Homo sapiens: one gene and its partner. The protein of the gene in region 2 interacts with the protein of the main gene of each other region in a pairwise test. Each region holds a gene or a part of one and is shown on either strand. Other genes may lie near its edges. The genes, in order: ITSN2 and YTHDF1.

Region 1 (7,421 bases), on a different chromosome or scaffold from region 2:
CGGGTGAATAGGTGCAGCAAACCACCACGGTGCACGTATACCTATGTAACAAACCTGTACGTTCTGCACATATATCCTGTTTTTTTTGTAAGAAATAAAAAAAAATCGGCACACAAGAAAGTCTGCCTTTCTTCAAAAACAGTTTTTTCACAAATTTTTTCCATAAATAAAAAAGGTACTAAAAAAACTTGAATCCAAAAAAAGAAAAAGAAAATGCACCGTTAGATGGTAATAAATATATCACATTTTTGGTAATGTAACTCGTTTATTCTGAATCATTTCTGGAACTTGTTAATATAAATGTTTTACAAGTAAATACAATATGTAAAAATGCTACTTAATGGACTAATATGTACTTTCACTCATTCACTAAACACATATTTTTTACTGAATGCCCATATAACTTTTTTTTTCTTTTTTTTGTTTGAGACGGAGTCTCACTCTGTCGCCTAGGCTGGAGTGCAGTGGTGCGATCTCGGTTCACTGCAACCTCCGCCTCCCGGGTTCAACGATTCTCCTGCCTCAGCCTCCTGAGTACCTGGGACTACAGGCGCACGCCACCATGCCAGGCTAATTTTTTGTATTTTTTAGTAGAGACAGGATTTCACCTTATTGGTCAGTCTCAAACTCCTGACCTGGTGATCCGCCCTCCTCGGCCTCCCAAAGTGCTGGGATTACAGGCATGAGCCAGGGCACCCGGCACATAGATAACTCTTTTTTAAATGTATGAACCAAGATGACTCTACCAGATAAGGCACAGGTGCTGCAGTTAAAAGGATCTTGGTTTGAAACCTGGCTATTGTACTTACTAGCTCAGAGACCTAAAGTAGTCAAACTTCAGGTTAACATTTCACTTACCTTTTTGATGGGAAGATAATAATTACTCCTAGGGCCTTAGTGAGCTTTAAATGATTATGTAAAACACTTAGCATAGAGTCTAACATGCAGTTACGTGCTCGATAAATGACAACCATGGTAAACATATTTTATACTGAAGAAAGTATAGTTGAAGGAGACAGCCAATATGTGACCCTTTTGTCTTACTAAAGATGGAAATTTGTGAAACTCTACATTAAAACTAAAAATCCTAAGGTTACATGATTTTCTACTTTTTAAAAAAGATATACTAACTACATAAGGTTAAAGGATTTTTTAAAATAAGAAAGAAAAAAAGAAAAGCTTCTTGAAAGCTGCTGAGTTTGGGTGATGGGTACATGCTATTTTTGTGAAAATACAAATTTTTTAACACTATTAATCCAATCCCCAAAACATGCCTAACACACCTCCTCATATTCAGGAGAGATCAAGATTTTAGCCTTGAGATGTACCGAACAATGGTAACTCCCTGCTTAGTAATTCTGTACAGGTCAAGTTTTCTTGGACGAGTTTACCTTTCATTACAAAGGTGGGCACAGGGAATAGTTATCAATGCATGGAAGGGTGAAAAAATGCAAGCTTTTCAACTGCTTATTAATATTACATCAAAATAGCAGCAATGCACATTTTTTCCACGTTTTCAAAAACATAAAATACATCCACTTTATTTACTTTTGAAATTACAAGAGAGTCACAGGCACAGCCAAAAAAAGCTAAAGGAAAACACATCAGAGTTGTCAGTATCTTTAAATTTGGAAGGACGTCATTATTAATTCGCGTAAATGTTTTATGCGATGTTTCTAGGTAGCTTTTAGGTTTTATCACTGATTAACAATATAGCAAACCAGCACAGGGAGAGAGGCAATTTTTCGAAACGCTTAAGAAGCTTTAAACTACAAGAGCTATGCTACCTAAACTGAGCTCACTAACAACGTAAAATTTCAAGTCACACCTTGCCTATTTCTGAGTAAGCAAGCAAACACTAGTGAGACAAACTAGAAGCATGGAGCAAAGCAAGTCATTTCTATGCTAACCTTAATTCCTATCGTAAAGGGGTTGGCTCCATCAAAAAATATTCCTATTTCAGTATTAACACAAGTTTCAAATAAAGCACACTTGCCATTGGTAATTCTAGAGCGACAAGGCGCATAATTAATAAATCCAAACGGAGCATCTTTCTATAGAATACAAAGCCATCTGCAGTTTCAGCCTCGGTTTACCCACTCACTATGCATATGCAGACGTCTTTAAAAATAAATAAATAAATACACAAATAAACTTTATCTGGCCTGAGAGATTACATCTCTCGGTGCTTCCTGTATATTCTGGAAGTCAATAACGCTGAAGGTAAATTTAACATTTCCAACTCCGGAGGAACGCGAGCGGTAGACGCCAAGCATCCGCCCACTGTCCTCTCGTGACTCGGGCTACTTTGACGCACCGGGATGCGGCTCACCTGACATTCGGCACCAACCCTTGCCAGGAAGGAAAACCAACTCCGCGAAAATAAAATGGGTCCCCGAGGAGGCGTGCGGGTGCCCCCAGAGCTCTCTTCTGCTCACACCCCGAAAGCGAGGGGGCCACGCCACCCCCGACCCTCGCCGGCGTCCGCCACCTGCCAGACGAGGCCGCGGCCAGGGACCCGGGCTCGGCCGCAAGGAAGGGGCAGCCCAGCCCAGGCCCCCTCGGCGTCTGTCCCGGCCCGGCAGCAGAGGAAGGAACCCGGGGCCGGAGGTTTCCGCCCCGCACGGCCGAGCCCGCCAGGGGCCTAGCTCGGGGGCCGCCCGTACTCCCGAGGACCCGTCCCCATCGTGCGGAGCGCACAGCCGCCTCAGCCCGACCCGCAGAGCCTCCGGGCAGCGGGCGCGGCGCCCGCACCTGCCCCGCGCCTTGCTGCAGCCCCGCTAGCGGCTTCACCCACCTGGCGCCCTCGCCGCGCCTCCCGCTCGTCACAGCGCGACTCCGCGTCCCTCAGCACCGGCAGCCTGGGCGCGGGCAGGCGCGGGGAGACCCTGCTCTGCCGCCGTCGCCGCCACTGCAGCTGGCTTGGTCGTCAGGCCGCCGCCCGCGAACCTGTTGCGTAGCCTGTCACAGCCGCTCAGGGCTCCGCCGGCGCCGCCTCAGCCCCACAACAACATGGCGGCCGCGGCCTCCGCAGGAAGCCGGGGGGCGGGGAGGTAGGCGCCGGGCCGGGCAGCTGACGGCCCGCCCGCTGCCGGGCACCGACTCCCCACCCTCCGGAGCCCGAAACTGCCCGGGCGTGGCTCCTCGCCCCAGGAGTTCCGGGGCATTGAACCCTGAAGGTCTGCTCCGAGTCGGTCGGGTCCGAAGCGCTCCTCTCTGCCCTCGGGGAGGCCCCGAAGCCCCAGACCTGGCAGCCCTTCCTGGAGTTGCACAGACCCACCTGGCTCCTCCTCCCCGAGGTAACATGCTGAGCTTGGGTGGTGCTTTTCCTGCCACGGCAGACGCCGGGGTTTTGGAAAGTCCCAAGCAGTGCCTGCCACATCCCTGTTGCACCCACCACGGGGTTCTCCCTGGAACCTTCTCACTCGCCGAAGTTTTCTCCACTGATCTGGGGGAACGAATTCTCTGGGAATTGGGGGGTGGAAGGTGGGAAGGAGGTTGATCCCACCCTTGCCCATGGGTCTGTTACAGGCCTCTTGAACCCTTCTCAGGGACCTGGAGGACTTAACCATACCCTCGGTCATCCATTCACCATTCCTCGCCCTCCTCCATAACACACGCGGAGCGCCCACGAGGAGCACCCTCTACGCTAGTCACACTCCGCCGAGCAGTAGGAAGACTCTGTCCCCATAGAGCATAGCACGACGAAGCTAAACTTTCCTCCCCACCCCTCGCCAAGGGACAGGCGAAGCTCCTACTCAGAATTTGTCTCTTTTCTCCCCTCCCGGTTCCTGGTCTCCTCACAAAAGACCAGACTTCAACTCAAGCCGCCACCGTATCCCAAAACCCCAAAGGTTTGCCCTTGACAAGAAGCTTCTTCAAGGGGAAAGGCTTTCTTTTGATTGGGGTGAGGGAGGAGTTAGTGTTTCCTAATGAACGTAACCAAATGTCGGCCTGGCACAGTGGCTCACGCTTGTAACCCCGGCACTTTGGGAGGCCGAGGCAGGTGGATCATCTGAGGTCAGGAGTTGGAGACCAGCCTGGCCAACATGGTGAAACCCCGCCTCTTCTAACAATACAAAAATTAGCTGGGCGTGGTGGCGGGCGCCTGTAGTCCCAGCTACTCGGAAGGCTGAGGCAGGAGAATCGCTTGAACCTGGGAGGCGGAGGTTGCAGTGAGCAGAGATTGCACCACTGTACTCCAGCCTGGGCGACAAGAGCGAAACTCTGTCTCAAAAAAAAAAAAGTAACCAAATGTAAGACTCAAGATTTTTGGATATAAGACCCAAGATTTCTTTTTTTTTTTTTTTTTTTTTTTTTTTTTTTCCTGAGACAGACTCTCACTCCGTTGCCCAGGCTGGAGTGCAGTGGCGCAACTGTGAGATCTGTGCTCACTGCAACCTCCGCCTCCCAGGTTCAAGCAATTCTCCTGCCTCAGCCTTCCAAGTACCTGGGATTACAGGCACTTGCCACCACGCCCGGCTAATTTTTGTATTTTTAGTAGACACTGGTTTCACCATGTTGGCCAGGCTGGTCTCAAACTCCTGACCTCAGGTGATCCACCCGCCTCATCCTCCCAAAGTGCTGGGATTGGCGTGAGCCACCACGCCCGGCCAAGACCCAAGATTTATTTTGGCTTTTAGAAGCAGGGTGAGGGCTGGTCTGGGGTCCAAAACTCATATCCCTTGATTTGATCTGTGTAGATCAAATAACCCCTGGCATCCTTTCATTCCTTACCTGTTGAGGCAGGTGAAGGTGAGATGGCTCCAAACCCAGGCCTATCTGAACTGGCCAGCCAGCTTAGGAGGAATTTACCAAACATCGATGATGATAAACAGGCTTTTCCCGCTCTCACACTCAGTGTTTTTCCTAACTCTTCGATTAGAACCTGACCAAGACCTGACAGACAGGTCCTGAGCTTCAGTGACACAGAGAAGCCTGACTCTTTTATCAGTCTAGGAGGCCCCTCACTTGCTGGGGACCAGCCAATCTGTCCTTATCTGCAAACAAACCACCCAGGCCAAGGATAGCAATCTTGAGCACGTGGCCTCATTCCCATTGCACCCTTCACCAGTTAACTGATATGCTCTTTTGGAGCCCATATTTGAGAGTCAAAGCCCCAGAATCCTTCACAACATAGTGCTCCAGAGAGTTGGTCTGAGAGGTAAAACCTATTTTTTATTCCTGTTAGGCACATAGCTAGTCTTCATTTTTCTCCCATCCTTTGACCAATGTCATTTGTGTTTTCGGGTTCTAGACCTGGTGCAATTTACCCTGAGTCTCCTTTCCTTCTAAAGGAGGTGCCAAATCCTTGGCAGGACAAAAATGGAATTTGTAGAAAGAGATGCTTATAAAGGAATAAAAAAAAATTTAAAGCCCCCCTAAAATAAACCAAAAAACTAACAACCTCTGCTGGAAATCAGGGTCCTGAATGCATGCCTACAGTATCCCAAGTACTAAAACAACTGTATCCCAGAGTTCCCTTCAGAACTTTGAGGCCAGTTTGTCCATCCTGTCCTACTCTATCACAGCCCAAAATGCAAGCACCTCCAGTTATCTATCTTCTCTCTCACACATACCTCCCACCCTGTGTGATTCAGGGATAAATTTGGGCAATATTAAGCATTTGGTGGTTGGATATAAGGAATGAGAAGGAGTAAAGGGTTCTTGGGTTTTTGGGTAATGGTAGTTCTATTCAACAAGATAAAGAATGGAATACAGGAGGGAAGCACAGACCTTGGAAGTGGCTGAAGAAACATTTTCCTTGCTCCTCGACTGCATCCAGATCCTAGTTTTCCACTCACATGCAAAAGCCCCTTCTCCTATGAGGCTTATAACACTAGCTACACCCATCCTCTATCCTCATCCTTATCATTTACCATCTTCCAGGGCACTCAATATATTCCTCAAGAATTTCTGCACATGGAGCAGCCAGTACTCTCCGCCCAGGACCTTCATCATCCTTAGTGTCTTTCAGTGTTCATGATTCATTTAGATGATGCAGCCGCCATCCCAGTTCCTTGACTTCCTCTTCTCATAGGGCAGCCTTGGAAGTGTGTCTATACATTTCCTCCTTAGTATTCTCCAAATCCCAGCATCTTTTCTTTACTTCTGGCACCAGCTGGAAATCAAATACCTGGAGGAGCTAAGTCCTACCATGTTACATTTCTCTTCCTCTAGTTCTGCCACAGTCTAGGCAAGATTCTTAGACTTGTTCCTGGTGACCTAGCTTTTACCCTGGGAGCGTTTAGTCTCTATCTGTTTTCTTTTCCATGTATTATTGATCCTTCTCCTCAACCATATGTATCTTATGTTCTATCAATCTCCCCTTAAGTTAGTTTTCAAAGATTCCATCCTGTACCCCATTTCTACCATGTTTACCCCCAAAACAAACCTGCAGTGTAAGAAGAGTATAGAATAGGTAGAAGCAACAGTTCTAGAGTCCAGGCATCCCATAAGATAAATACCATTATCATATAGAGTAGAAAGACTGAGAACCTGGAGCTCATATTTCATGTTATAGTTTTACCTTCAAAACAATGCTGTAACTTTGGGGGTTTTTTATTTGTTTTTGTTTTGTTTTTTTTAGGATGGAGTTTCACTCTTGTTGCCTAGGCTGGAGTGCAATGGCGCGATCTCAGCTCTCTGCAACCTCCGCCTCCCAGGTTCAAGCGATTCTCCTGCCTCATCCTCCTGAGTAGCTGGGATTACAGGCTCCCACCACCAAGCCCAGCTAATTTTTTGTATTTTTAGTAGAGACAAGGTCTCACTATATTGGCCAGGCTGGTCTTGAACTCCTGACCTCAGGTGATCCACCCACCTCAGCCTCCCAAAGTGCTAGGATTACAGGCATGAGCCAAGTTTTAAATAAATAATTTATAAAGAAATTAATAGGTTACAGGCAACAAAAATAGTCTTGATTTATCCAGATATTTATTATTTTGGGCACTCTTCATTCTTTCCTGAGGATCCGAGTTTCCTATGATAATATTTCCCACCTGCCAAACAAACTAACCCTGAAAATGGATGGCACTGGAGGAGCAGAGGAAGGGAGAGGAAAGGGATTGAGCAGATGGCATCATTTCCCATTTTTCAACCCCCAACCCCAAGTTCCCATCCCTGCAGATGCTCTGCCCTGAGACTTGAAGCCTGGGGCACAGGCCTGGGTGGAGCCAATGCAGGCACAGATCTTGACATTCGTAGCAAATATTCAGATGGGAATTTTGAAGGCAGAAGTGGAGAAGAGTTCCACGTGAACAGCAGTAGGTATGAGTTATATATTTTTTAAATTAATAATTTTTAAAAGACCCTACCATGTTCTGGCCACTAGAAACAAGGACTTCGCAAGGAATGAGCACTGGTGAGGAGCAGTGGAGACTCAATTCACAAGAATGGTCAATGGGACAAATTTGGTCCTTGGA
Region 2 (4,491 bases):
TATGCAGATCCTACTCTTAAGAATTAACATTTCCTCCCTACCCCTCAAATGTAAAACTGGAAAAATTAAGAACTCTGTATTTTGCATTGCATTCTCTTAAAAATTCTGTTAAAAAAATCTCTTCACAGACTGGGTGTGGTGGCTCGTGCCTGTAATCCTAGTACTTTGGGAGGCCAAGGCGGGCGGATTGCCTGAGCTCAGGATTTTCTGGGCTGAGGCTAATATTGCATAACTTTATCACATACTTGTCAACTTCTGCAGATGTACACAATGTGCATTTCACTGCTTATAAATTTTACCTCAAAAGGAAAACAAACTAAACAGGTATTAAACTCTTATTGCATAAATAATAAGAGGCATTGGAGGATGAATGGAGAGAGACGGTGAGGAGCCAAGTCCAGAAAGGGGGTAGCGGTGCCCAGGTGCTGCACGCACCGCTGCGTCTGCACATTCATGTGATGAGGGGTGGGTGACGGTGCCATGTAGTTTATAGTCTTAAGGAAATTAACAGCTCCCTCTTCCAAAGCGAGGGAACGAGAATCCCACACCTTGAGAAACACAGGGCTTTCTACGGTGACTCCCCGAATGGCTCTGCAGCTTAAAAAGCTCCAACACATAAACTCATCAAGTAGGGTGAAGAATGAGGTGACACCAAGTTTGCTAAATAGTATTGTTTATTAAGGCTTGTATTCTCCTAGAGGAAAAACCCAATGTCGTCCAGGACTCCATTCAGGCAGTAACAGTTCAGAGGAAGTGACACGCTCTAAATACAAGTCTAATGATACAGCTGAAACGTTAACTCAGAGGGTCTTTTGGAGCAAGTAGTTTTCAGAAAGCGTCTGCTCTCTAGGACGGTAAGGATCCTCTACAAGGGCACGTGCAGATCCAGGCGCTGGAGCGTCAGGCATGGGCACCATTTTCATGCTTCAACTCAAACTCCAGGTGGTAGTGAGCTCAACGGTCCCTCATTCCACAAAACATGACAGCAAATTCATCTTCTAAAAAAAGTTTTGTTTTGTTTTTACCCATTCAACAGGAAAAAAAATTAGACACACACGATGAAATTTACAACCAGCAGCATCATCCATCACACTGTCTGTACTACCAGATCCTACACTTAAAGCTCAGCATTATTGGTATAAAAACTTAAGACGGCATTAGAATTCTTAAGAAAAGGTGTAAAATTTAAAAAGATGTGCAAACAACAAAGAATGCCCGACCCTGAACCAGACCTAAAGCACCTTCCAGTTCCTCCACACATCATGCCCCAACACCATCCAGCCCAATCGGACACCAGGACAGTGAGGGACGGGTGGCTGTTCAGTGGGCAACAGATCTGGAAGGAAAGATTTTCAAAAAAAAAAAAAAAGTGTCTGCCAAATTTGAAAAATTAAAAGTTATCTGTCTAGCAGAAAAATCAAATGGGTAAATTAGCACTTTAGACCGATAACAGATAATAAAATGACAAATCAGAATGAACAAAAAATCATTAACCTTTTGATTTCAGTATTTTCAAGAGATTTTATCAGAATACTCTAAATGACAAAATGACTCATGGTTTCTTATGTTTGCTAAAAAGCAATAAAGGGATGAGAAATATGAAGTCTCACAGAATATCAAATGACTGAATTTAAGAACACAATTTCTGCCAAAATAGATGCTTTGTTTTTAAGGATACTTACATTTCACATTAGATCAGTCTGATTGATAAGCTGACAAAAAAAATACTCCTTTATTAGTGACTTCTACAGGATTATAATACATAGAAAAAGTACAAATAAATGCAGATCCATCTGGGCAAAAATCAACGACAAGAAAGGCAAAGATGCAACACTCAACCCCCGCACGGGACGACACACTGGAGCTGACCAAGCACACGTGTTTTAAACTGTTTTCAAAGTCAAACGTTAGAACATGTAAGAAACTGGTTCGCCCTCATTGTTTGTTTCGACTCTGCCGTTCCTGTAAAAAGAAAAAACAAAAGTTGAACGCAGAGTAACCACACCAATGAATCCCTCCCAAAAGTGAGATCCGAGGCTGCCCCTTAGCAGCACCTGCAAATCTGGAGGCGGGACCCTGAATGGTACCCAAGCCACACCAGCACACAACTCTGAGCTGCACTGGGGCCTGCTCTGTGGGGGACTGGCCACACTGGGCATGGCATTCTCCCCACCCCCTCTACCAGGAGAAAAGCATCAACCACAACGGTCACATGGGCCACCTGTCTGCTGGGAAGCCTCACTTCCCACAGCTGTCTTTCCCTCATGTGCCACTATCATTCCACATGGAAAGACACTTAGCAATGTGAAATTCTCTGCACTCAGAGGGAGGAGCTGGCACGCACCAGGCTCTCAAGGAGGCCAGGGAGACAGAAGCTGTTCTTCTGTATTTTATCTCATTTAAACTTCTCAGTGGCACAAAGGACACCAAAATCCTTCCAACTGGCTAACAAGGTGCTGTGTCATGTGGCTAATGAAGGGCAGGAGGACCGGTGTGGGCCTGTCCAGTTCAGGCCCTTCCCACTCCCCAGCTCACTCCCACGCCAAGGGGAAGAGCATGCCCCTCCCCACTCCCCCACGGCTAGACTGGCTCAAGGCAAAGCTCCTCTGACCAGGTTTGCTGCCCACTCCCGTAAGAGAATCATCTTTTCCAGAGTGTATGTGACACACAAGCTTGAGACTTACACCCGAATCTTTTCCCACACTGGCCTCCCTGAGTAGCAGGGTCTAGAAGCCCCTTCAGTCTCCTTACAAGGCAGCATACAAAGATGAAAATGTGCGATCTAAGGAGCACACGCTGCACCACTCTGCTAGAGAGGTGTCCCAGGCCGAGTGTGGTGGCGCACCCTGTAATCCCAGCTATTCGGGAGGCTGAGGCGAGAGGATCGCTTGAGCCCATGAGTTTTCGGCTGCAGTGAGCTATTATCTGCCCTGCACTCCAGCCTGGGCAACAGAGAGAGACCCTATCTCGAAATAAAAACAAAACAAAAAGATGCATCCCAGGCACATCCACCCTCATCTGGCCATCTATCAAGATGCAAACTAATAAAGAAAACCAGCGGGCAGGACACCCAAACATTTAACCTGAAACCTCCTCTTTTGCTAAAAATGGACTGAATGTGTCTTCCGGTTAATAATAAACTTTGCTGGGCACTGGAATAAACACCAGCCTCCTCAACTGTGGCTGCTCTCAGAAGCAGATGTGGTGTTCCCTGTCCCGAGAAGGCTCCAGAGTATTTGGATTAAGGACCTGGATAGGCAGGTCCTACTCTTAAGAATTAACATTTCCTCCCTACCCTCAAATGTAAAACTGGAAAAATTAAGAACTCTGTATTTTACATTCTCTTAAACATTCTCCGTTAAAAAAAATCTCTTCCCAGGCTGGGTGTGGTGGCTCATGCCTGTAATCCTAGCACTTTGGGAGGCCAAGGTGGGTGGATTGCCTGAGCTCAGGAATTTGAGACCAGCTTGGTCAACATGGTAAAACCCCACCTCTACTAAAAATACAAAAAAAAAAAAAAAATTTGGCAGGGCATGGTGACCGGCGCCTGTAATCCCAGCCACTCTGAAGGCTGAGGCACAAGAATTACTTGAACCTAGGACGCAGAGGTTGCAGTGAGCTGAGATTGTGCCACTTCACTCCAGCCTGGGGGAGACAGCGAAACTCTCAATCAATCAATCTCTTAACAAAAGAGGTACTGCTGTTCCTAAAAAGCAAATACCAATCTCTTGAGTTCAAATAGCTGATGTTAAAGCCACTCACAGGTAAACTCCCCAGATCCCCATCTCCCTTCAGCCCTTATAAACAGCTACAAAGTTTACTATGTGCTCTTTAAAAAATACTATTCCTCATAAAATTTCTCAAAAAAAAAAAAAATGACGAAGCACAGCTCGTTCTTTTGAGGAATGCTCAACAAGCATCCAGGAAATGCTTATGGCCTAAGATTCTCTATGCTCTTTCTTAATTTCCAAAGTCAAAGAGCCACTCTGCTGAGCCGGCCTGGAGGTCGAAGTGGGGTCAGGTCAGGGGCACCTGCCGCCAGGGCAAGGACAGTCAGTCTGAGGAACTAAGCAATGCTCACAGTGTGGGACGCTCACCACTTTCACTGTTTTAAGCTAAGAAGTGGCCGTTTCTAGGTTTTTTTAAAACCAAAAAATGTATCAACCCAGGACTTGGTCTGACTCTGCTGCCATAAAAGCTACTGCCATCCTAAGAAATCAGTATGTTTCTAAATTTATAGCTGGACAGCAATCTTGCAAAATGCTAACTCTACTTCACTTTCTCAACACTCAACTTGTTTATGACCTTTACAGCAATGGGGCCAAACTCTAAATGATAAAGAAAAGGTGGGTCTGTTCTTCGAAGTCCTGAGAGAACCTTGAGAAAACCGCCCGGGGGCTCTACCAGCACAGGCGCACAACCCTCTCCTCGGCACACTACTTTGTTCTTAAAACTGCACTGACTCGGCCGGGCGCAGTGGCTCACGCCTGT

Evidence for each region.
Region 1: the proteins of YTHDF1 (region 2) and ITSN2 interact in a two-hybrid assay, tested with the Homo sapiens proteins (one study listed by BioGRID and IntAct).

What each region holds. Positions count from the first base shown.
Region 1 is NC_000002.12:24,357,507-24,364,927, forward strand, and holds the start of ITSN2 (intersectin-2), read right to left. Parts: upstream 3,031-7,421; 5' UTR 2,798-3,030; exon of another isoform or gene 2,333-2,797; intron 1-2,332.
Region 2 is NC_000020.11:63,194,773-63,199,263, forward strand, and holds the end of YTHDF1 (YTH domain-containing family protein 1), read right to left. Parts: intron 1,963-4,491; coding exon 1,936-1,962; 3' UTR 657-1,935; downstream 1-656.